Homo sapiens: one gene and its partners. The protein of the gene in region 1 purifies or fractionates together with the protein of each later gene. This does not show direct contact. Each region holds a gene or a part of one and is shown in the gene's direction. Other genes may lie near its edges. The genes, in order: MTRF1, ASB7, DBT, LYPLA1, XRCC4, MEIS1 and PALM.

The links.
Region 2: the proteins of MTRF1 (region 1) and ASB7 purify together in Homo sapiens (affinity purification with mass spectrometry; one large-scale study listed by BioGRID and IntAct). This does not show direct contact.
Region 3: the proteins of MTRF1 (region 1) and DBT purify together in Homo sapiens (affinity purification with mass spectrometry; one large-scale study listed by BioGRID and IntAct). This does not show direct contact.
Region 4: the proteins of MTRF1 (region 1) and LYPLA1 purify together in Homo sapiens (affinity purification with mass spectrometry; one large-scale study listed by BioGRID and IntAct). This does not show direct contact.
Region 5: the proteins of MTRF1 (region 1) and XRCC4 purify together in Homo sapiens (affinity purification with mass spectrometry; one large-scale study listed by BioGRID and IntAct). This does not show direct contact.
Region 6: the proteins of MTRF1 (region 1) and MEIS1 purify together in Homo sapiens (affinity purification with mass spectrometry; one large-scale study listed by BioGRID and IntAct). This does not show direct contact.
Region 7: the proteins of MTRF1 (region 1) and PALM purify together in Homo sapiens (affinity purification with mass spectrometry; one large-scale study listed by BioGRID and IntAct). This does not show direct contact.

What each region holds. Positions count from the first base shown.
Region 1 is NC_000013.11:41,250,077-41,253,576, reverse strand, and holds part of MTRF1 (peptide chain release factor 1, mitochondrial), read left to right. Parts: intron 1-546; coding exon 547-628; intron 629-824; coding exon 825-932; intron 933-3,500. UniProt on the Homo sapiens protein: Mitochondrial peptide chain release factor that directs the termination of translation in response to the peptide chain non-canonical stop codons AGG and AGA.
Region 2 is NC_000015.10:100,630,089-100,633,588, forward strand, and holds part of ASB7 (ankyrin repeat and SOCS box protein 7), read left to right. Parts: exon of another isoform or gene 1-121; intron 122-3,500. UniProt on the Homo sapiens protein: Probable substrate-recognition component of a SCF-like ECS (Elongin-Cullin-SOCS-box protein) E3 ubiquitin-protein ligase complex which mediates the ubiquitination and subsequent proteasomal degradation of target proteins.
Region 3 is NC_000001.11:100,211,835-100,215,334, reverse strand, and holds part of DBT (lipoamide acyltransferase component of branched-chain alpha-keto acid dehydrogenase complex, mitochondrial isoform 1 precursor), read left to right. Parts: intron 1-351; coding exon 352-518; intron 519-1,384; exon of another isoform or gene 1,385-2,112; intron 2,113-3,500. UniProt on the Homo sapiens protein: The branched-chain alpha-keto dehydrogenase complex catalyzes the overall conversion of alpha-keto acids to acyl-CoA and CO(2).
Region 4 is NC_000008.11:54,095,448-54,098,947, reverse strand, and holds part of LYPLA1 (acyl-protein thioesterase 1), read left to right. Parts: intron 1-3,500. UniProt on the Homo sapiens protein: Acts as an acyl-protein thioesterase. Hydrolyzes fatty acids from S-acylated cysteine residues in proteins such as trimeric G alpha proteins or HRAS.
Region 5 is NC_000005.10:83,203,047-83,206,546, forward strand, and holds part of XRCC4 (DNA repair protein XRCC4), read left to right. Parts: intron 1-505; coding exon 506-661; intron 662-1,768; coding exon 1,769-1,875; intron 1,876-3,500.
Region 6 is NC_000002.12:66,564,125-66,567,624, forward strand, and holds part of MEIS1 (homeobox protein Meis1), read left to right. Parts: intron 1-3,328; coding exon 3,329-3,387; intron 3,388-3,500. UniProt on the Homo sapiens protein: Acts as a transcriptional regulator of PAX6. Acts as a transcriptional activator of PF4 in complex with PBX1 or PBX2. Required for hematopoiesis, megakaryocyte lineage development and vascular patterning.
Region 7 is NC_000019.10:732,935-736,434, forward strand, and holds part of PALM (paralemmin-1), read left to right. Parts: intron 1-1,238; coding exon 1,239-1,260; intron 1,261-3,084; coding exon 3,085-3,144; intron 3,145-3,500. UniProt on the Homo sapiens protein: Involved in plasma membrane dynamics and cell process formation. Isoform 1 and isoform 2 are necessary for axonal and dendritic filopodia induction, for dendritic spine maturation and synapse formation in a palmitoylation-dependent manner.

The sequences.
Region 1 (3,500 bases):
ATTAGGAAGCCCTTTTTCTTTCTGGTCACAGCTGAGAAACTCATTTTGAGCCTTATCTTGGGAGCCCTCAACATAGTCTTTAATTAGAGCGTCTCTGCTGAGAAGGCACAGCATGGCTGGTGTCTGCTGTCAGTTATAGCAGAAGATAATATGAAATCATTTCTCAAAGTGAAGACTTTCAAAGCCTTGCTTCATTCATTAGATGAAAGAAGCTACTGTTCAGAACTAATTATAAGCGCCAAAATCTGAAGAAAATTGAATGGAACACCCTGGACTTTGATCTGAACTTCTGCATTCTAGAAAATTAAGATAATCTGATAACAGTGCAGAAAATATACTGACAAGTAACTCCATTGTTAACATGAATTGATCACCTATTTTAGGTCTAATTAGTTCTACTTATTATAGCATTTTTGGAATACCCTGTTTGGGATACTATATGATTTTGCCAATTATTGATTTTTTTCAATGTTTTTCGGGCCTTTATTTAATTCAGTAATAGTGTACCGGGGAAAATATACACACAAATGCTGATTTTTATTCCAGCTTTTCCAGAGCCTTGTGCCAAAGGAGAAATATGACAAAAATGATGTTATTTTAGAGGTGACAGCTGGAAGGACTACTGGAGGTCAGTAAACTTACTTTATTATTTAAATGATCTAAAAAGTCCTTGAATTTTACCTTATTTGATAACACTAACTTTAAAAGTCCATTAAATGTATTTAAATTTGGAAATAGTTATTCTTTATTTCCTAAAGGACTTAGTCTTAAGGGTGGCTTTCCGAAATTTGTCCTGACTAAATATTTTTCGTATTTTGTTTTAGGTGACATCTGCCAACAATTTACCCGAGAAATATTTGACATGTACCAGAATTATTCGTGCTATAAACACTGGCAATTTGAACTTCTGAATTATACACCAGCAGATTATGGTAGGCATATTGAGGAATTTGCCTGTAGGAGATACTGAAAATTATTTTACCTCTGATCTTGATTAGAACCATATTGTCCCATTTTTTTTTGAAACTTTTGGTGTATATCTACTAAACACTGTGGCATAGGCTCATCAATCACAGTGGCTTACTATTATAGCAGAGTTGTTAGCTAGGAGAAGACAGTAGAAAGGAGGGAAGCATTTGCTTAGGGAGAAATATGTGAATTAGAGAAAATTCCCCTGAGGAACTTAGATACGTATCTTGCCTCAAAATCATTTTTCTCTATTATTGAAAGCAAAGGTATATTAAGGTTTTTACTTTAAATAACTTTATAAAATAATATAAGTATTACTAATTAGACTAAGTGGCTAATGTGTTTGATTTTTATGAGAATGCGGAAAAAGTTAATCATTTGTCTTTATTTTCAAGAAACTTCTCTTTTGGCTGATAAAAATTTATAATGGCTGGGCACTATGGTTCACGCCTGTAATCCCAGCACTCTGGGAGGCCAAGATGGGTGGATCACCTGAGGTCAGGAGTTTGAGACCAGCCTGGCCAACATGGCAAAACCCTGACTGTACTAAAAATACAAAAATTAACTGGGCATGGTGGCACGTGCCTGTAGTCCCAAATACTCGAGAGGCTGAGGCAGGAGAATCGCTTGAACCCGGGATGGGGAGGTTGCAGTGAGCCAAGATCACACCAGTACACTCCAGCCTGGGCAACAAAGTGAGACTGTCTCAAAAAAAAAAAATGATACAACATAGACAAACAGTGCAGTTCTTTACCTTTAAATACTCAAGTATATTGATTGAAAACATGATAATAATTCTCTCATTTGTCTCATTCTTTTAATCCATCTGAAAGTTTTCCTCTGCTTGGTTACACAGTGATACATTGTAGTAGACAGAGGAGTCATCAGTAATAAACCACAAACTATCAAAGTGGGGAGAGAGGATTCATGTAAGTTGAGCAGTAAAGGGAAATAAGAACCAGCCTACAGCATAAGGAAGTTGTACCTGGTACAGATTTCAGATACAACCAGTGGTCAGGAAAGGGGATTATCCATGAGAGCAGAGAGAAGAAACAACCTGAGCAGCAGCATGCTGGTGGGAGAGGTCTTGGTGTGTGGGGAAGGGAGTGGTGGGGAGGCCAGTTTACCCATAGCTTGTCAGGGAAGTAATCGCTGAAGTAGGTTTGAGTGGATAGATTTTGAACAGCTTTGATTGATGGGCAATAGGAAGCTGTTGAAAATTGCATTAATAAGAATATGATTTGATAAGATATATATTTTAAGGAGATTATTTTGACAATAGTGATGGATGGATGGATGGATGGATGGAAAGGCTAGATTTAGTGCAGACTGCAAAGAGGTTATTAGAGTAATCCAGATATGACTAAGAGTTAGAATGGGGAGTAGAATTATCTGTCAGAGACCTGCAAAGGATGAATAGGCATAATTTGCTAAGTAACTAGATGTGAGAGGGGCTGTTGTTTATCCAGTATGTCTTGTGTGCACAACTTCACACCCTTGTGAAATAGATATTACTAATCTCATTTTACAGATGAGGATCTAGGCTCAGAGAGTAAGTAACTAATCCAAGACCACACAATAAGTAATGGCAATCCTGGGATTACATTTTAGTCTGTTTGATCCAGAGCTGCACTATATCCCATTATTCTATTCTGACACAAAGGAGATGAGCCACAGGGAGTCTAATCTTTCTAGCTGAGAAGACTGTGATACTCATTCATGCCATTGAATGGAATAGAAGTTGGAAGGCAGAAACCATTTGGAAAGAATAATGATGAATGGTTTTTGAATCATTAAGTTTGAGGTTATAGTGAGCATCCACTTAGAAATAGTCAGTAAATAGGCTGGGCACAGTGGCTCACGCCTATAATCCCAGCACTTCGGGAGACAGTTCGAGACCAGCCTGACCAACATGGTAAAACCCCGTCTGTACTAACAATACAAAAATTAGCTGGGTGTGGTGGTGCACACCTGTAATCTCAGCTACTCGGGAGGCTGAGGCACGAGAATCATTTGAACCCAGGAGGCACGGGTTGCAGTGAGTCGAGATCACACCACTGCACTCAGCCTGGGCGATAGAGTAAGACTCAGTCTCAAAAAAAAAAAAAAATTTGGAGTAAATATTGAAATTGAGTAACCAGATCTTTGGTGAGACAACAGAACTCAGGCAAGCTATTTGATACCTGTCAGCTCAGAGATAATGTCTGATACTGAGAGAATAAGTGAGGGAGAGTCTATAGAGAGAGAGCATTCAGGGCAACAAGCTTTGGAGAATGGCCATGTTTAGAAGGATAGACCAGTTAGCAAAATAAAAAGAGGATTCAAGATAATCAGAAAAAGGATGAGGACAGTAAAATATTATGGAAGCAAAAGAGGAGAGAGTTTCAAGGAGAATGTAAGAAGAAACAGCAGCATTATGAAAAGGAGAGTAGTAGAAAATATCCTGAGTGAACTCTGATAGGTGTATTTCGAATGAGACTTTCAAGAATAAAAGGGAGATAACCTCAATAACAGGAAGAGAGATTCTGTTC
Region 2 (3,500 bases), on another chromosome or scaffold:
TCTTCTGAGGAGCTTAATGTGTTTTTGCAACTTAAGATGACTAGATATTAATCATTCCTATAACCACTGCTTGGTAAGCGATGCCTCATTCTTCTGAAATAAAAAAAAAACTTTGACTGTATCACAAGATTTCATAAAAATTCAATTGTGTTTCTAAATGTAATAGGGGTAGACAGTAAGAGTGAGGGAAGGAATGGAGAGAAGGACAGAGAGGAGAATTTTTTTTAAATGAACAAAGATCTGTGTTAGAACAAGGCAATTCCTGTTGGTCATAAGGATAATCTTACCTGGCTTCCATTGACTGCAAGTTGAGGAGTTAGAGGGGGAATTTTGGATCTTAGATTCCTTACCTGTGAAAATATCCTAGAATTTGTGCTTTATTGCTAAGTTGTTCACGTTTTAATTGTGGCTTTTCTGCTTCATGAGAGCCCACATGAAATGGAGCAGTGGTGCTGTGTATTTAGGGATACCACTCGTGGAAGTTAAGGATGCTAGAAATTGTTGTAAGAAAATATTTGCAGTGGGAAGTTTGGCACCACTGTCCCTGGACCACATGGCTTCCATTGTATTTGAACGTTTTTGTGTGGGTGCTTTTTTTAAAGCCTGGAAGTGTCTGGCCCACTTTGTGTAGTAACGCGTGCGTCCTAGTTGTTCCTCTGATGGGGTATCAGCTTGTGTGTACTTAGCCATCCTCTCTTGTCAAGCTTCCACGTGACCAGTTGAATGTGTGTCTCATGCTTAATGTCCACCATGAAGCTAAAATCTGTAAACAAAATGGATTTTGCTGTCTGCTGAACTTTTTAATGAGTTCCTTTTTCCTCACTGGTTTTGAGCCTTCGGTCATTATTATACAAGAGGACATATTAACATCCTGGGTACCAGCTACTAGAGGGCAAGGGCTCTACCTGACCTGCTTGTAAGTAACCCACTCTACCCCTTGGAGCGGGCCTTTGGAGTACACATTTGCTTTATGAAGAAACAAAATGTAATTTGAATTTTGCAGATTCATGGAAGAAAAGATGCAATTATTATCACTAATGTTTTCAGACTAAAGCGTAAGAAAAAATCACACTGCTTAGTCTACTTAGTGCTGGCCAGTACCAGTTTCTGTGATGTTGGAAATGGTCTCTCCTTGCTGTCCAGTATAGTAGCCACTGGTCCCATGTGGCTGCTGAGCACCTATTAATGTGACCGTTGCCACTGAGGAACTGAAATTTCAATTTTATTTAATTGCGATTTAAGTTTAAATGGCCACAAGTGCCTGGTGGTTCCTTTGTTGGTCCACACAGATCTGCCTGCCTTGGGAGAGGTATCTGGGGCTGACTGGTGGGTGTTCCATTGCAGAAAGCTTCTGAGACACACAGAAGTCGCCACAGTTGGGAGACGTGATACCCGCAGTGCTGCAGTCCTGCTTGCCTTGTTGTTGTTCTCTCAACTTCTACATTAGAGACTTAGTTATGATGAGTGTGGCCGCCCTTAGGAAGGCATGTTATATACTCACTTAAATGCCTCAGCCCCCTTTTTTAAAATACTTTGTTCAGTGGTTAATGGCATAGACTAGAGCTAGACTGCAAGAGTTTGAGCCTTAACTCTATCCCATGTTAGCTGTGACCTTGGGCAGGTCGCCTAATCTCTCTGTGCCTTAGTGTCCTCACCTTCAAATTAAGATAATACAGGCTTGTTATGAGGATTAAATGAGTTAATATTTATAATGCACTTAACACTTAAAATGTTCTTGTTCTTTGTAATTGTTTTTCAAGGTGAAGTGTGTAACTAATAAAGTGAGGGGGGATTAACAGCGAGGACTGGCTTGCCACCAACAGAGCAAATCTTTAGATTCATATTCAACTCAAGCCTCCCAGTTTCAACCCTGTATACAACTGTCCAGAGTCTGTACATGGAGGCACGCAGCCACGTGGCCGAGAGGAGCCGCTGGGCAGGACAAGCACGTGGGCGGCTGCCGTGTGTCCCTGAGCCCTCAGAGCTGCCCCTAGCAGTGCTGTTGGACAGCAGGAATGTTGAGTTAAAGACTCACATGCACTTTAAAATTTGAGCAGATAGAAATGTCAGTGGGGACTGCCTCTGTCTGTGCTTAGGTTCTCCACTGTACGAGGAGCAGAGCTGTGCGCCTAGGAGGTCCTCAGTAGTCCTGGCAGTCTGGCTGACTGCGCACAGCGAGGGGTGGGGACTGAGGAAGCACAGGCTGCTTTCCTGAGTGCAGGGTCCTCCGTCTGTTAAGGCTCCAGTTGTCCTTTGTCTTCAGGTGCCTCAACATAATTTAGTATTTCTTGACTCTCCAGTGGTGTTTCCTGCCAAAAGCAAATTTGGTGTTTCTGCTTCACCTGTGTGTTCTTTGGCTCTAAATAGGTTTTCTTTTCCTGGTGAACAATATGGGCTAGAAGGAGCAGCTGTGGCTGATGCTCTGGACTGAGCTTTCTCATGAAAAGCAGCTTGAAAGAAGGTTGGTTGGTTCAGGGAGCACTAAATCAAAGCTGAGAGCTTCTTCTAGCCCGCGTGCTGTGGGCACCGCAGCCCCAGGCATCATGCTGTTGGCTTATGATTGGAGATCGCAGACTGCCGAGGTATAAGGACAGCAGAGGGGCCACATGGTGGTCTTCATTCAGGGACATTTTACTCTTCATCACACTGTTTTGCCTAGAAACAGATTATTTAAATTGGAAGAGACCAAAAAAATTATAATACCAGAATTTAAAAACTCCTCTGGCCTTTTGGAAAAATTGCCGTAAAAACTCTGATCTATATAGTGCAAAAAAAAAAAAAAAACAGAGCGCACCCGTGGCTTGGTAATAAACTAACATCTGCTTGTGACTTGTTAGTGCTGAGTAGGGGGAGAGGCCATGAAGAGCTGCTGTTGCTGTTCCCTACAGCCAGCCCGCTGTCCAGCATTCAGACCTCAGAACCTCCCCCTTCCAGGACGTCAGGAGCGCAGCAGGGCCCATCCATGGAGGAGCCACTTCTCTGTGCCCAGGAATGATAAACACAGCTAAGAGGAGCCATAGCACCTGCCTGAATAATGAGCGCCACCTGTGGGAGGAAAGCTGCGTCCTGCTTAGTTGGCAGTGTTTATAAGAAGCCAGTTTTTGGTTTTTTACTTGTAGCCAAAAAAAAAAAAAAAAGAATGGAATGAATAAATTAAAGAGAGAACAGTGAAGGTGTGACCGATGTCAAGTAGAAATGGTAGTGACGGCTGGGCGCAGTGGCTCATGCCTGTAATCCTAGCACTTTGGGAGGCTGAGGCGGGTGGGTCACCTGAGGTCAGGAGTTTGAGGCCAGCCTGGCCAACGTGGTGAAACCCCATCTCTACTAAAAATACAAAAATTAGCCGGGCATGGTGGCACATGCCTGTAATCCCAGTTACTTGGAAGGCTGAGGCAGGAGAATCGCTTGAACCCAGGAGGCAGAGGTTGCAGTGAGCCAAGATTGTGCTACTGCACTCCGGCCTGGGTGACAAGAGTGAAACTCTCTCAAGAAAAAAAAGA
Region 3 (3,500 bases), on another chromosome or scaffold:
TTATTTATAAACTCCTGGAATGATTAACTTCCAGAAGAGTGGCTTTGCAGGAAAGCTGTTAGGGAAATACATGGCTTGCATTCTTTTGAATTTTTTATATAACACAGCATTTAAAGCAGTTACCTGCTATGTTATTGCATTTGCCACTGAGTGTCATGATGCAGTCAGTGTTCCAGCTTTGAAATTAGTGACTTTCAGTGTAATGTAATGAAGAGAGTAGTAAGAGGAAGGGTTTAACTGAGAGAGTAAAAGACATTAGAGAACCTTCCATTTTAGTTTCTTTAAAAAAAAAAAAAAGGATGAAGAGATTTGAGAATTTAAATAAATGAATAACAATTTAATGCTTTTCAGGCTTTCAAAAAGCAATGGTCAAGACTATGTCTGCAGCCCTGAAGATACCTCATTTTGGTTATTGTGATGAGATTGACCTTACTGAACTGGTTAAGCTCCGAGAAGAATTAAAACCCATTGCATTTGCTCGTGGAATTAAACTCTCCTTTATGCCTTTCTTCTTAAAGGTGAGATTCATTCATTTCAAACAAGGCTTGAGTAGGACATTTATTTGTTTGTTTGTCTTTTTGAGACAGAGTTTTGCTCTTGTCACCCAGGCTGGAGTGCAATGGCACAATCTCGGCTCACTGCAACCTCCACCTTCCGGGTTTAAACAATTCTCTTGCCTTAGCCTCCTGAGTAGCTGGGAATACAGGCACCTGCCACCACGCCTGGCTAATTTTGTATTTTTAGTAGACACGTGGTTTCGCCATGTTGGTCAGGCTGGTCTTGAACTCCTGACCTCAGGTGATCCACCCCCGCCCCAGCCTCCCAAAGTGCTGGAATTCCAGGCGTGAGCCACCATACCTGGCCCCAAGTAGGACATTTAAATTTTGCTTTGCCAACATGCAATATGTTGACTGTGGCCTTGAATAAAAATATTACTTTTCGCAACATCAGATAGTTAGAAAATGTGCCATTTCTTTGTTCAATAGGAAATTATAAAATTGAGATTTCTGTACTATATTTTTAGCTGCTTATCTTTGAGCTAGGTAGAGACAATTCTGCCAGTTAAGTAAAGCCTCTGATCCTAAAAGGATCACTCCAACCAAGTCTTGGTTTGAACTAAAATGAGACTTGATATTAATTTTGCAATATCACTGACATATATTTAATATTTATTTTCATTTACTCAACCAACTTATATTGAGGATCCTGGGAATCATTTCTAGTGCTAAGCCTTGGGACCAGTATAAAATGGAGTAAGACCATCAGCTAACCTTGAGCAGCATACAGTCTAGCTCACATTAGTGACTGTGCAGCAGCTACCATGTGCCAGCCTCCATAGTAAGCATGCTGTATACATTATCTCTCTCTTTTTTTTTTTTTTTTTTGGTATGAATCTCATTTATTGAAAAGATTATTTCTCACCTTTCTCAAATTGAAGACTGCAAAAAATAAAAGCAGTGCTTCATTGAGTTGTCATGAGCCTGGGGCAGGAGCAGCAGCGCTGCCTCTCCACGCTCCGGGAAACCGCAGCTGGCGTGTGCCACATCGGTCCCACCTCGCTTTACAAAACAGTCCTGAAGCTTAATCAAATAAAACTATTGAACACAACATTTACATTAGAAAAAGAGAGCTGGGTGTAGGAAAGGCCGAGCCTGGTGTTCCCTTTAAGCGAAGGTGGCTCCACAGTTGGGGCATCTTCGCTCCCTCAAGGCAAAACAGCAAATGAACCCAAAGGGGAACAGGATGATGGCCAGGAAGATGCCCAGGAAGGTGAAGCAGTCCTGCAGCCCCCCGACCCTGCAGACGGGACAGCCTCCCACGACCACGATAGAGTTGGTAGGATAGCGGATGACGGTCCAGCTGTGGATGTTGTAGACCCTGGGATGGTGGGTGGGTGTCCGTGTGACGAGGTAGGAGTAGGGCGGCTGCGGGGGCGCGGCGGGGATGGCGCCGTAGCCGTGCGGGCCTCACGCGTAGTCGCCCTGGCCGGCCTCCAGGTTGTAGGCGGGCGGCCGCTCCTGCAGCAGAGTCTTGTGGTCCATGGCGGCCCGGCTCGGCTCTGTCGGCCCCGGCGGGGACGCGGCGCACGCCCCGGGTGGCTCGGGCCCCTCTGAGGCAGACGCGGGGCAGGGCCCATTATCTCTTAATTCTCAGAGTAACCCTGACATGTAAATATTACTGTCTCCACTTTCCATTTAAGGAAATTGGGGCTCAGAGAGGTTGAGAAACTTGTTAAGGACTTACAGCTAACAGGTGGAGAAGCTCTTTCAGGTTCTGGTCTGTTTTACTCAGAAGGACATACTGATGTCTGTAATGCCAACATGTCCAGTCCTTTCTCTACACTGCACCAAGACTGGTCTTCCGTAAATCAAATTACTGTAATATTCTCTGATTCTTTTCAGTGGTTCCCTTTCATTACCTTCAGGATAATTTGTATGCCATACTCCTTAGTGTGGCATACAAATGTGTTATAAGTCTCTGCTGCCTGCCTCTCCATTCTTACCTCACTCCCTCATATTAAGGTACCCATAATTGCTGGAATACACAATTCCACCTGAAGTGCCCGTTCTTCTCGATCAAACACCTGCAAATCCCAAACTGTGGTCAGGTACAGACTCCTTCTGTGGCTGTCACTATTTGAATTAAATACTTTTGTTTCCCACTGTTAACTTATCTCAGTGCATTGAGTGCTTACTCAGTTTTCTCTTCACTTACTCACTTACTGGGCGCTGAGCCTCATGAGGCAGAAACTATTCTTCTTTATCTCCCTTTTTCTTTCTTTCTTCTTTTTTTTTTTAGAAAGGGTTCACTTTGTTGCCCAGGCTGCTGGAGTGCAGTGGCACAATCACAGCTCACTGCAACCTTGAACTCCTGGGTTCAAGTGATCCTCTGCCTCAGCCTCCCGAGAAGCTGGAACCACAGGTGTGCACCACCACACCTGGCTAATTTTTTTTTATTCTTAGTAGAGATGTGTCTCGCAGTGCTGCCCAGGCTGGTCTTACAGGGATGAGCCAGCATGCCTGGCTATTTTGTTTTAAAATAAAACATAAGTTTCAGAACATTCGAAAAAATACTACACAGTATTGTAGAGGGGGAACAAATGACCTAATCCATTGACACATACCTTGTATTTTCTTGGACAAAATTTGGATTATACTCAAATATTTTTATATGTAACAGTTTAGACTAACCTTAGGGGTTTTTAGATAAAGACTATTAAAATTACAGTTATTGAATCAAATGCTTACTAAAACTTTCAAGTTGGCTGGGCGCAGTGTCTCACGACTGTAATCCCAACACTTTAGGAGGCCAAGGCAGGCAGATTGCTTGAGCTCAGGAGTTCAAGACCAGCCTGGGCAACATGGTGAAACCCCATCTCTACAAAAAATACAAAAGTTACCTGGGCATGGTGGCACACGCCTATAGTTCCAGCTACTCGGGAGGCTGAGGCAGGAGGGTCACTCGAGCCAAGGACGTTGAGGCTACAGTGAGCTGAGATC
Region 4 (3,500 bases), on another chromosome or scaffold:
AATTATTTGGTGGGATAATGCTAAGGAAAGGCTGACTCTAGATTGGTTCCATGAGTGCATGATGAAACTTCGAACCTGTCAGCCTGACAAGTGGCAATTTAATACTTAAGATATTGTAGTCTCCCCTTACCTGCAGTTTTGCTTCCCATGGTTTCAGTTACCCGTGGTTAACTGTGGTTTGAAAATACTAAATGAAAAATTCCAGAAATACTTTATAAGTTTAAAATTGTACACCATTCTTTTTTATTTATTTTATTATTATTTTTTGAGATGGAGTCTCACTCTGTCACCCAGGCTGGAGTGCAGTGGCACGATCTCGGCTCCCTTCAACCTCTGCCACTCGGGTTCAAGTGATTCTTGTGCCTCGGCCTCCGGCGTAGCTGAGATTACAGGCGCGTGCTACCACGTCCAGCTAATTTTTTTGTATTTTTAGTAGAGATGGGGTTTTGCCATGTTGGCCAGGGTGGTCTTGAACTCCTGACCTCTAGTGATCCACCCACCTCGGCCTCCCGCAGTGCTGGGATTACAGGCATGAGCCACCATGCCTGGCCTGAATTGTACACCATTCTGAGTATTGTGATGAAATCTCATTCCGTCTCACCCAGGACACGAATCATTCCTTTACCTAGCGTATCCATGCTATATCCATTCACCATCTGTTAGTCACTTGGTAGCCATCTGGGTTATCAGGTCAACTGTTTTGGTATTGTTTTGCTTTTTTTTTTGAGACAGAGTCTTGCTCTGTCACCCAGGCTGGAATGCAGTGACACAATCATGGCTCACTGCAACCTCCACTCTCCAGGTTCAAGCAACTCTCCTGCCTCAGCCTCCTGAGTAGCTGGGACTACAGGCGTGCACCACCACACCCGGCTAATTTTTGTATTTTTAGTAGAGACGGGGTTTCATCATGTTGGCCAGGCCAGTCTGGAACTCTTGACCTCAAGCGATCTGCCCGCCTTGGCCTCCCAAAGTGCTGGGAATACAGGCATGAGCCACCTCGCCCAGCCTGTAGTGCTTTTATCCAAATAAGCCTTACATTGCTTAATGATGGCCCCAAAGTGCAAGAGAAGTGATGTTGTCATATTGTTATAATTGTTTTATTATTGTTAATCTCTTCCTATGTCTAATTTACACAATAAACTTTATCACAAGCATTATGTATAGGAAAAAACATAGTATATATAGGGTTTGGTGTTATCCATGGATTCAGGCATCCACTAGGGGTTTTAGAGCATCCCCCACTGTTTATTTCTGGAATTTTCCATGTAATATTTTCGAACCACAGTTGACTGTGGGCAGCTGAAACCATGGAAAACAAAACTGTGGGTGAGAAGGACTAGGGTATTTTAAACATTATATAATCACAGAAAAGTTATCCCATTAAATTTAACATTTAGTATTATCTAATATATTATGCATTCAACCTTTGCCAGATTGTTCCATTAATATCCTTTATAGCTATCTCCTCCCTAGTCATACATTATATTTAGTTATCACGTCTCTTTAGTCTCTTTTGTCTCTTTTAATCTGGAACAATTCCCTAGATTTTCTTTTGTCTTTCACGACATTGACACTTCTGCAGAGAACAGGCTAGTCCTTTAATTTGGGTTTGTGTATTTACTCATGATTAGATTCAGTTTATGCATTTCTGGTATAAATACCATGTAAACAATATGTCCTATTCATTGCGCGCATCAGTAGACTAATGATGCTGAGTCCTTTTATTGTTGTAACTTCGATCTTTTGATTAAGGTGGTATCTTCCAGGTCTCGACTGCAGTTACTTTCCTTTTGTAATTAAAAAGCAAGTTGCGGGGGGATACTTTGTGACTATGCAAGTTGTTCATCAAGCTTTCACCCAATATTTTTATCATCCATTGATAATTGCTTGAGTCAATCATTTCTACAGTGTGATTTTCCAATTCTGTCATTCCTTTTTTTTTGTCATTCCATTTTGTTTATTAATCTGCTACTCCCCATTTAGTTAGTATGGACTCAGATTTATTTTCTATTTATTTATTTATTTGTTTATTTTTTGAGACAGAATCTCGCTCTGTCACCCAGCCAGGCTGGAGTGCAGTGGTGCAATCTCGGCTCACTGAACCTCCACCTCCCAGGTTCAAGCAGTTCTGCTGCCTCAGCCTCCCAAGTAGCTGGGACTATAGGTGCGTGCCGCCACACCCGGCTAATTTTTTTTTTTTTTTTTGAGACCTTGTCTCGCCCTGTCGTCCAGGCTGGAGTGTAGTGGCGTGATCTTGGCTCACTGCAACCTCTGCCTCCTGAGTTCAAGTGAGTCTCCTGCCTCAGCCTCATGAGTAGCTGGGATTACAGGCACGTGCCACCACGCCTGGCTAATTTTTTTTGTATTTTTAGTAGAGACGGGGGGGTTTCACCATGTTGGTCAGGCTGATCTCAAACTCCTGACCTCGTAATCTGCCCTCCTCAGCCTCCCAAAGTGCTGGGATTACAGGCGTGAGCCATAGTGTCCAGTCAGATTTTTGTAGTTTTAGTAGAGACGGGGTTTTGCCATGTTGGCCAAGCTGGTCTCGAACTCCTGACCTCAAGTGATTTGCCCACTTCGGCCTCCCAGTCCCTCCCTGGAATTACAGGCATGAACCACTGTGTCATGCCTGGACTCAGATTTATTTAATAGGTTATGTTCTATTCTGTTATGTTTTAAACTTTTTAACTTTTCATTTTAAATAACTTGAAATTTACATAAAAGTTGCAGAAATAACATTTATAGCTCCTTATACCTTTCACCCAAATTACCCAATTGTTAATATTTCTGAACTATTAAAGAATAAGTTGCAGGCGTGTTGCCTCATTACAGCTTAATTCTTCAGTGTACATTTTTAAGTACCAGGACACTCCAGTATAACCATCATTAAGAAGTTAACACTGATGGTATACTACGGTCTAATCCACCAGCTCCATTCACATTTCATTGATTTGAGCCAATAATGTCCTTTATCAGTCTAGGATCACATATTGCCTCTACTTATCATTTCTCTTTAGTTTTCTTTATTCTGAAACAGTCCTTGTCTTTCATGACCTTGACACTTTGTCAAGAATACAGGCCGGGTATGGTAATACCAGTGCTTTGGGAAGCTGAGCATGAGAATCGCTTGAGCCCAGCTGTTTGAGACCAGCCTGGGCAACAGCCAGACCCTGTGTCTACCAAAAAAAAAAAAAAAAAGTGTAAGCCAGTTACTTTGTAGAATGTCCCTCAGTTTGGGTTTATCTGATGTTTTGTGATTTATACCTTTTTGACAGTAACACTATAGGGGTATTGCTGTGTCCATAACAGTGCATCATATTAGGCAGACCTCATGATGATTTTGTTGTTACTGATGTGTTTTATCACTTGGTTAAGATGGTGTCTGCCAGGTTTCTCCACATTAAAATAATAAATATAACATATGAAATATTTAAAATATTGAATATGTAATTAAAATATTAAAAAATATTTTGTGGGGAGATACCTTGATATTATAACAT
Region 5 (3,500 bases), on another chromosome or scaffold:
TGTGTGTGGTGCTCGCTTATAAGAATATAACTGGATAAGTCGTGTTCTTGTTGTGGAGCAGTTTGTTGTCTAGTAGATAAATCAGACAAATTAGCTATGTTGCCTTATCACAAAATAAGATTGTAGTTGCTTTTATAGTAATATTAACATAGTACTGAGGAAACAGGCTACATTTACTCTTGTTTGAAATTTATCCCATAAAAACATTCTTTTGTAAATAAACCATATGTATCAATAAATTATCTTTAGGCATTTTGATTTTCTAAAGGCTTATTTGTATCAGTTTTCAATTTTGATCCTTATCTCAGTAAATAAATTACATTAATAACCAATAATTTCTAATTGTGTATTTAACCATCTTTATAAAACTTCCAAGTCAGTGAAAGCATATGTGAAAATAATCTTTAATTGTATTTTCCTTGAAATCTTCTTGATTATTAGGCTGAATTATGTTAATGCTAAGCAGAACTGCATGACTAATTTGTTTACTTATTTACTTTTTTAGATTTGAAAAATGTGTGAGTGCTAAGGAAGCTTTGGAGACTGATCTTTATAAGCGGTTTATTCTGGTGTTGAATGAGAAGAAAACAAAAATCAGAAGTTTGCATAATAAATTATTAAATGCAGCTCAAGAACGAGAAAAGGACATCAAACAAGAAGGGTATTTTCGCTATCTTGTTTTTGGATGACAGATGAATACATTTAAGTGGAATTTCTTCCCAAAGTTAATGAACATTAGATGCCAACTTTTTGATCATATGAGATAATTTGGTAGTCTGGATGTGGATGTTCAGGCTGTTAGATAGGGGTACCATGGGCTAGAGAGTTCTCAGCATGGTCTCTCTATGTCTGCTCAACTGTGTCACCTACACTTAAATTAAAAAACTGACATGAGGCTTATTAAAGTATTATTTAATTCTTAGACATTAGTAAGACATACTAATTTAAAAAAAAACTTTCATCTGCAGAACTACAAAAGTTGGATGCATATTTGTAATCTTGATGTCTAGGCAATGATTAACTTTAGAATCAAGTGGTTAATATTAAATTCCAGGGAGCACTTATTTTATCTGATTAGAGTGTGATTATCAGTTTTATTCTTCTTTCACATATTCTCTGAAAGTACATATGTACTTGATTTTTATGGAAGAATCCTAAGTGACAAATGGCTGATACGGCTTTCGACGATTATAACTTTTTTACGCATTAGCAAATACAAGTTAGGGTCTGTTGCTTTGAATCTTAGTAGAAGTACAGAATTACCAGTGACGTAGTATAAAAAAATTTGATATCAGCTAGTCCTAGCACAGGTACTGGTCTTGCAGTCATACCTATTAGTTTATAGCTTTGGACAAGTCACTTTATCTTCATAATAAAGGTAAAGATACCCATCTTAGGGTTTTGCAGAGATCAAATGAAATGCGAACTGTTCTGAGATTAGTAAAATGTTAAATACTCTGTGACTCACAGAGATAATTTGTTAGAAAAAGTATTTTGATGGAAGAATAGTACCTGATAAGAAACTGATTTAATATTAATTATAATAAGTACTAAATTCAGATTAAAATTAGGTAAAAGAGAAACTTGTTCTTAAGAGAGTTAATATATAGGTTTTAAGATGCTTTCATCTAAATCATATATATTTTCAATATGTTTGTCTAATTAGAATCTTTTTCTAGGAATATTTTCTATAATTGCTTACTGATAAATCTGCTGCCTAGCAGGGGGTGAGCCAGTTATTTATAATTCTACCTTTCTCTGTTTCTAGGGAAACTGCAATCTGTTCTGAAATGACTGCTGACCGAGATCCAGTCTATGATGAGAGTACTGATGAGGAAAGTGAAAACCAAACTGATCTCTCTGGGTTGGCTTCAGGTAAGAGATACATACATTTATCTCCTCTGTTGAATATCTTATTTGGGCTTCTTATTCTAATGACAAGAAACCATAATGGAAAAATGTTGTGAAAGACCTTATTCTATGAAAATTCTTTAGCATTTTTATTTTAAAAACTCAAATTTTTAATGTTAAAACTTAATATTATTTGTAAAATGCAGCAACTCATTAGCACAGCAGTGTGAGCAAGCATTCATACACATATACTCCAAGGTATACTATTCCTGGTTAAATATAACCAGGAAAAGCATAAGCAATGAGGAAGAAACACCTTTATGCTAAATATCATCAGCTTAAAGCTGGTTGCCTTTAACATTTGAGATCTTATTTAGCTAAAGCCATGAATAGGCCACTGGAGCAGAGTAATCAAGAATGCTCTAAATTATACTGAAGTTGAGGCCTTCTTTCACTCTTCAGAAAAAAGATTGCAACAAGTGAGATGTAATAGAGGAAAAGAGAAGGGGAAAAATGGCAGTTTAGTACAAAGTACCTATGACTTACTCAGTCCTTTGGATCAAGTTCCCAGCAAGTGTTTAAACCCATGAGTTATTTTTTAAAATGTTTTATAGATTTCCTAGTGACGGTGGAAACAGGAGCCTCTGAACTCATTTTATACTTAGATGGTTTTGACCTAAAACCAATACTATTAAAATAAATGCTTGATTTATTTATTTAGAAAATATTTTTGAGTTCCTATTATGTACTAGAAACTTTGCTATGCATTAGACAGCAAAACACAAAAATCTGTGCCATTGTGGAGTTTAAATTGTAGTCAGGGAAACATATAAGATGAATAAATATAAAATATGTTAGGTTGATAAGTGCTAAAGAGAAAAATAAACCAGAGAAGGCGTTAGAAAGGTCAGGGTGAGAATAAGGATGAGGGTTATGATTTTAGCCAGACTATCAGAAAAGGCCTCAGTGAGAAGGTGAAGGTGACATGCTGTCTTGGGGAAGACCATGCCAAACAGAAAACAAAAACAAAAACAAAAACAAAAAAACACTAAGTACAAAGTTCCTGACGCGTTTAAGCAATACTATAGAGTGTAATCTGGATAAAGTAGAAAGATGAAGACTGGGAGAATTAGGAAATGAGATGAGAGAGATGATGGGACCTCATCACGTGTAGGGCGATATAGGCTACCATTAGAACTTCTCCTGTTACTTTGAATTAACTTGGAAACTACTGAAGGATTTTAAACAGTCAGGTGACATAATCTGACTCAAATTTCAAGAGGATTAGTCTGTGTATTGTGTTAAGAATAGACTATAGGATGACAAATGCAGAAGAAGATATAACAGATGGGAAGCTAGTACAACAATTCGGTGAAGGATGAGGCTGGCTTAGACCAGAGTGATGGAGAGGCGATGAGCAAGGAGCAGATTCTAGGTGTGCTTAGAGGCAGCAGGATTTGCTGATGAAGGGGTTATGACTGAGCAAATAAGACTGAGAAGGAGCAGCCAGGAGGTAAGAGGCAAAAATATAAATGTGGTATCCTGCTGATTGATGGATTTAGCAATACAAACGTTATTAAGGATCTTAATAGAACATATTCACTGGATTGGTGAAGGAAGGGGATAGGAGAGAATAGGAGTTTCAAAGG
Region 6 (3,500 bases), on another chromosome or scaffold:
GTAAGAAGTTGCAGGTAGACCTACTAATGTGGTCAAACAGCTCAGAAAAGGTGATTAGTTTTTCTCAGGTTTTCAGTGTTTTTGTTTATGTTTTATTTTTTAATTAAAGGTTTCCCCCTTTGATATCTACACATTCTAGGGGTAGCTGACATCTGTGTTCTTAATAACAACAAACAGTTCTTGCCACCAAAAAGAAGCAAATAACATCTAGTACCTGTGGGCAGTTGGCTAAGAGGCTGTGGTATTTTTTGTGTGTATTTGCTTTCTACCTGGGGATCAGAGCAGGCCTGGAATAAATGTCGTTGGTGTTGTCCACTGCAAGGCTTCAGGAGGACATAGACAAAGATCAGCCTACTGAGCAGAGAGTGGTCCAGGTATTGAATGGACTCAATATCCTAGAAGGACTCACATTCTAGCAGGCACTTTTTAAGAATCACTAATGTTTAACCTAAGGATTAGAGGGGAGAAGGCTATAAAGCATAATGGCTATGTTTAACTATTTGAAGGGCTATCCTGTGGAAGTAAAATTAGAATTGCTTACAGTACCCCAAGGAGTTGTGCTGATAAAACTATTAGGTTGGGTGCAAAAGTAATTGTTTTTTTTTTTTTTAATTATACTTTAAGTTCTAGGGTACATGTGCACAACGTGCAGGTTTGTTACATATGTATACATGTGCCATGTTGGTGTGCTGCCCCCATTAACTCGTCATTTACATTAGGTATATCTCCTAATGCTATCCCTTCCCCCTCCCCCTGTAATTGTTGTTTTTGCCACTGAAAGTAATGGCAAGACCGCAATTACTTTTGCACCAACATAAATATTTTTGATCTAGTAAGGCAGAACCTTCTAACAGCCTTGTTTATAGATGGGGTGGCCTCTTAAGTAAGGTGGTGAGTGCTGTATTAGTTCAGCAGAGGTTACCTATGTACTTTTGGGGGACAGATATCATATAGGGGATTCATGTCAGTGACCAAACGAAGTGACCATTACAGCCCTTTTGAAACCTGAGGTGTAATTTTTAAAAATGAACTCACGACTTTAATAGTCATAGACTCAAACCTGAGTTGATTATTATGAATTAGTTTATGGGAGTCTCAATATGTGAATATGATGGAGACAAGTTTTGGAATACAGATAAATCAAGTCACTGTATTCACTCTCTCTCTCTCTCTTTGAATAGCCTTATCTTTGCCTATACACACAAACAGTGCAGCCATCAAAATTTTCAATTTACAAAATGTTCACAGTCATGCTTCTTCCTTGACTAAACACTGGGGTTGCTGCCAGTGGTAATTGGCTTGAAACCAGCTAATTTTTATATATCTATTTAGTCTGGATATTCTAGATGAGTGGCACTATAGTTGCGGTGCTCTAGTCACTGTGCCAGAGCACCAGGGAGGAGGGTGCTTGCTACCACTGACAGCTGTGTGTCATTTAGCAAATTATTAACATCTCTTTGGTAACATGTGACCTCAAAGAAGTCACCTAATTTCTCTGAGCCCAGGCTTCTCATCTGTTAAAAATGTCTCTTCCTATTTTTAGGTAAGTAGTATAAGTCACATCCATAAAAGATTATGTTTTTAAAAAGTCTGGAAAAAGAAAGTTAATAGACAGAATTCCTTCCCTCTAAGAGTCTGCAGATAATGAACAGTACCATAGATAAAGAGATGTTTTTGCTCTCTTACCTACATTAGTTACTATGAAAATTACTTTTGGTATATGCAGAATATTAATATTAAATAATTTTCTAATTGGTCATGCAGTGAAGGCAGCTAATGAAAAAACAGATTTTTTTTCATTTTAATTGGTTATTTCACATGGTGTTTGTGCTACACCTGTGCTTATAATGAGAATGGAGAATTAATCTAACCTTCTGCTCACATGATTCCAGTTTTCATGGTTTATACAAGATAATGATAACCTGATTTGCAACACAATTTGTTGTAGACCTGTGTTTTAAATATTTTTATTAGCAGTTCAGGGACTTCATATACAAGAACTGATATAATATGTATTGCCAACAAGAATTAGCACAAACAGTATACCTTTTAGTTAGATTCTAGTTTCATTATTTGTTTCAATTACTTCTCAGATAATGAAAGAACACAAGGATACAGGATATTGAGAATCTTAAAATGTTATGAAGTATGCATTTTTGTTTTGAAAACCTGTCCCTGTCTGTTTAATGGTTTGGTTTTTAGGAACTATTTTCCTTCCTGAAGTGGGCAGATTTACAAACTAGAATTCATACTGGACTATGGATCCTTTAATCATTAATAGAGCCTTATTAAACTTTTCATTGTATTTTTTATGTCCTGCTCAGATTTGATCTGAGTTGGGAACTAAAAGGAATTTACTATTTCAGAATCTAATATGTCCTCTTCATTTTCTGGATTTGATACGTAATTTTTAATATTATGCAGAACAAACGGATCTTAAGAGAATCTCATGCGTATGACTCTGGAGAGCGTATATTAATACTTTTTTACATGTCAGTGACTTGTCACTTTTGGAGAGGCTACAAAAATAATTGTACAAAACTATCTTATTAAGGCACTTAAAGTAACTTAAGTGCCTTAATAAGATGTTTATAAATTTTCAGTACTAGCTGGAGAAAGCAAAACTATAAGTTCAATTACTGTATATCTGTGACCTTGCCTTGACCTCAGACTTTACATAAAGAGCAAAAAAAAAAAAAACAACAACAACAAAAAAAGCCACCCCAAGAAATCTCTACAAGGAATGCATTTCTCTGAAGTCCTAAGCAGTGTGAGTTAGTGGTGATAAACTCCAGACATTCTCTCATTTGATGGTGTGCTGCCATCCCAGTTCATTATCTTAATAGTGGGCATTAAAATAGAATTAGGTTTGCAAGAGGTAGGGGTGGTTTTGATAAAAATTGTACAAAAGAAGTCAGAGAACATAAGATTGAAATGTCACTAATTAGGAGAGGTAACAGATGCCCTTATGAGCATCTAACTCTTTACACCAATTTTCTCTCTTTGCAAATGAAAGGAGTGGTGGCTAGTATTGTTTCCTGAAAACTCTGCTAATTCCCCCATGAAAAGATGAAATGGAAGTGTCCAACTGTGGTAAAACAGGCAAACATAAATCAACTCAGAAACCCCAAGCCTGTGTACTCAAAGGTCACTGGGGGTTACAGGTTTTCCAGCACGTGAGGCTGCACATAGAGCAATGGAGAGAACTGAAGGAGTCCCATTTTGCCAAGATCTAGTTTTACTCCAACTGCGATTCATCTTTTCCTCTTCCTCAACCCCCCCTTTTATTTTTAAGGAATAACGATTTGTTTCACTTTCTTGGTTACAGGTTTATTAATGCCCGGAGAAGAATAGTGCAGCCCATGATAGACCAGTCCAACCGAGCAGGCAAGTCCCCCATAGTGACTGTATTCAAGTCACGCAAGCGAAAACCATCCTCAAGCCATTCACCGGGAGGTCCGCTACCTGGTAAATAAACTGGGAGTGAGTATAGGAACGCC
Region 7 (3,500 bases), on another chromosome or scaffold:
TTGTGTTTTTTTTTTTGAGACAGAGTTTCACTCTTGTTACCCAGGCTGGAGTGCAATGGCACGATTTCAGCAACCTCTACCTCCTGGGTTCAAGTGATTCTCCTGCCTTAGCCTCCTAAGTATCTGGGATTGCAGGCGCCCGCCACCACGCCCAGCTAATTTTGTATTTTTAGTAGAGACAGGGTTTGGCCATGTTGGTCAGGCTGGTCTCGAACTCCTGACCTCAGGTGATCCGCCCGCCTCGGCCTCCCAAAGTGCTGGGATTAGAGGCATGAGCCACCGTGCCCAGCCAAGGAAGTGGGTTTTGAAGGTTGAATAGGAGTTCTCCAGGTGCTTTTCCCTGAAGGTTGTTTGAGCATGGACTAGTGCTGTCATGGGAGACTCAGCAATACACATGCACGGCCCCTGCCTTCCTGACGGGCACACCCAGTGACGTGATGAGGGAAGAGTGCACTGAGGGAGCATCAGACACCACAGCCCTGAGACAGGAGTGTGTCCCAGAAACAGCAAGAAGACCAGGGATGCCAGGGCACAGTTCAGGGAGAGGGGCCTGTGTGCAGGGTCTGACCATGCAGGGCAGAACGGGTTCAGACAGGCGACACTAGACCCTGAGCCTCGCACAGTGGCTCCCAGGAGGCCAAGGGAGGAGGATCGCTTGAGAGCAGGAGTGGACGAGACTGGAGGGGGCACGGAGGAGCCGGCTGGATTCAGGGTGGCCTGCGGGAGCCGCTGATGCGGGGGTATGTGGGGAGGGAGGGAAGAAATGAGATGGAGCGGACGTGGTGGCTCAGCCTGTAATCCCGGCACTTTGGGAGGCCGAGGTGGGTGGATCACCTGAGGTCAGGGGATCGAAACCAGCCTGGCCAACATGGAGAAACCCCGTCTCTACTAAAAATACAAAATTAGCCAGGTGCGATGACGCAGGCCTGTAACCCCAGCTACTGGGGAGGCTGAGGCACGAGAATCGCTTGAACCCAGGAGGCGGAAGTTGCAGTGAGCCAAGATTGCCCCATTGCACTCCGGCCTGGGCGACAAGAGCGAAACTCCATCTCAATAAAAAGAAAAAAGAAAGATGACCTCTGTGTTTCTGGCCAGAGTCCCAAGAGGATAGGATGAGAAGCGGGTGCGTATGACGTCACCCACTGTGCCATGCCCTCCCCAGGCTCCTGACCCCATGGCTCCCCTTCCTCTTCCCGGGGATGCTGACGCCCCTGACCCTTCTCTCTTCTTTCTTGCAGACGCCGGTGGGCACGCCCAAAGGTAGGACCTCTGGAAGGAACTCGTGGGGCCTCGGCGCACTCTGGTGGCCAGAGAGGGGATGGCAGGGCGGGGAGTGAAGCTACAAAGTTGCTCGGTGCCTCACGCCTGTGATCCCAGCACTTTGGGAGGCCGAGGCGGGTAGATCTCCTGAGGTCAGGAGTTCGAGACCAGCCTGACCAACATGGCGAAACTCAGTGTCTACTGAAAAAATGCAAAGACAATTAGCCGGGTGTGGTGGCTCATGCCTGTAATCCCAGCACTTTGGGAGGCTGAGGCAGGAGGATCGATCGCTTGAGCCCAGGAGTTCAAGAGCATGCTGGGCAACACAGGGAGACCCTGTCTCTGCCAAACATAAAAAAATTAGCCGCCGGCCAGGCCCAGTGGCTCAGACCTGTAACCCCAGCGCTCTGGGAGGCTGAGACAGGTGGATCCCTTGAGGTCAGGAGTTCAAGACCAGCCTGGCCAACATAGTGAAACCCCGTCTCTACTAAAAATACAAAAATTAGCCGTGTGTGCTGCACGCCTGTAGTCCCAGCTGCTCGGGAGGCTGAGGTGGGAGGATCACTTGAGCCCAGGAGGTTGAGCTGTGATCGCACCACTGCACCCCAGCCTGGGCGACAGAGCGAGACCCTGTCTGTAAACTGCATTTCACGGAACGTGTCCGCTTCTGTATCGATAGCGGGACAGCCACCAGCCGGGATTGACGCTGGCGTCTGAAGTGCTTCTGGCCTGGTTTGTTGTGTGTTAATTATTCATAAGGAGAGTGTCTTCTTGTCTTACTGTAGAATTAAAAATTAATCATTAAAAAAATCCAGACAGGCCTCTCAGGGATTTTGTGAAAATCACTGGGCTGAGGATGAGGAATGAACTGTGAGGCTGCCTGTGGGATTTTCTAGGGGTTGCGGTGGGGGTCCAGGTGCCTGTGTCTGTGCGGGGCCTGTGTCTGGGGGCCCAGGTGCCTGTGTCCTGGTGTCTGGGTGGGGTCTGTGTGTCTGGGGGCCCAGGTGCCTGTGTCCTGGTGTCTGGGTGGGGTCTGTGTGTCTGGGGGCCCAGGTGCCTGTGTTTGGGTGTCTCGGTGGGGTCTGTGTGTCTGGGGGCCCAGGTGCTTGTCTGGATGTCTGGGGGCCCACAGGTGCCTGTGTCCGGGTGTCTGGGTGGGATCTGTGTGTCTGAGGGCCCAGGTGCCTGTCTGGATGTCTGGGGGCCCAGGTTCCTGTGTCCGGGTGTCTGGATGGGATCCGTGTGTCTGAGGGCCCAGGTGCCTGTCTGGATGTCTGGGGGCCCAGGTGCCTGTGTCCGGGTGTCTGGGTGGGATCTGTGTGTCTGAGGGCCCAGGTGCCTGTCTGGGTGTCTGGGGGCCCAGGTTCCTGTGTCTGGGTGTCTGGGTGGGATCCGTGTGTCTGAGGGCCCAGGTGCCTGTCTGGGTGTCTGGGGGCCCAGGTGCCTGTGTCCGGGTGTCTGGGTGGGATCCGTGTGTCTGAGGGCCCAGGTGCCTGTCTGGGTGTCTGGGGGCCCAGGTTCCTGTGTCTGGGTGTCTGGGTGGGATCCGTGTGTCTGAGGGCCCAGGTGCCTGTCTGGGTGTCTGGGGGCCCAGGTGCCTGTGTCCGGGTGTCTGGGTGGGATCTGTGTGTCTGAGGGCCCAGGTGCCTGTCTGGGTGTCTGGGGGCCCAGGTTCCTGTGTCTGGGTGGGGTCTGGGTGTCAAAGGCCCAGGTGCATGTGGGAGTCCGGATGCACTTCTGTGAAGGGGCGTTGGGCTGTCTGGGGGGTCCATGTGACCTCTCCTCTGACCCTCATCTCTCTCTCCGCTTCCACCTCCCGTGCAGACAAGCGAGTCTCCAACACGCCCCTGAGGACGGTTGACGGCTCCCCCATGATGAAGGCAGGTGGGTTGGCCCCCAGGCTCTGGGCCCCAGATCCAGCCGCTGTCAGGGACCAAGTCTCGGTCCGGGGGGCCGGGTGGGGCGGGGGCGACACCGACCTGCTCTCCGCAGCGTCTGACGGGGCCGTGGTTATGGGGGTGGCAGCTGGACCGAGGCCGAGGCTCCGAGCCTGGGGTGGGGGCCCCCTCTGCTTTGTTGCCCTGGTCCCACGCCGGCCCACGCTTCCCCGAGAAGACGGGCCCCACGCATGGCGGCTCTAACCGACGCGACCTCACGGCTTTCATTCCACCCTAATCTCACGGCTCCCTCCTGGGGCCCGCTGGGGGTGGCGCTCACGCCTGAACATGCTCGCTGCAAAT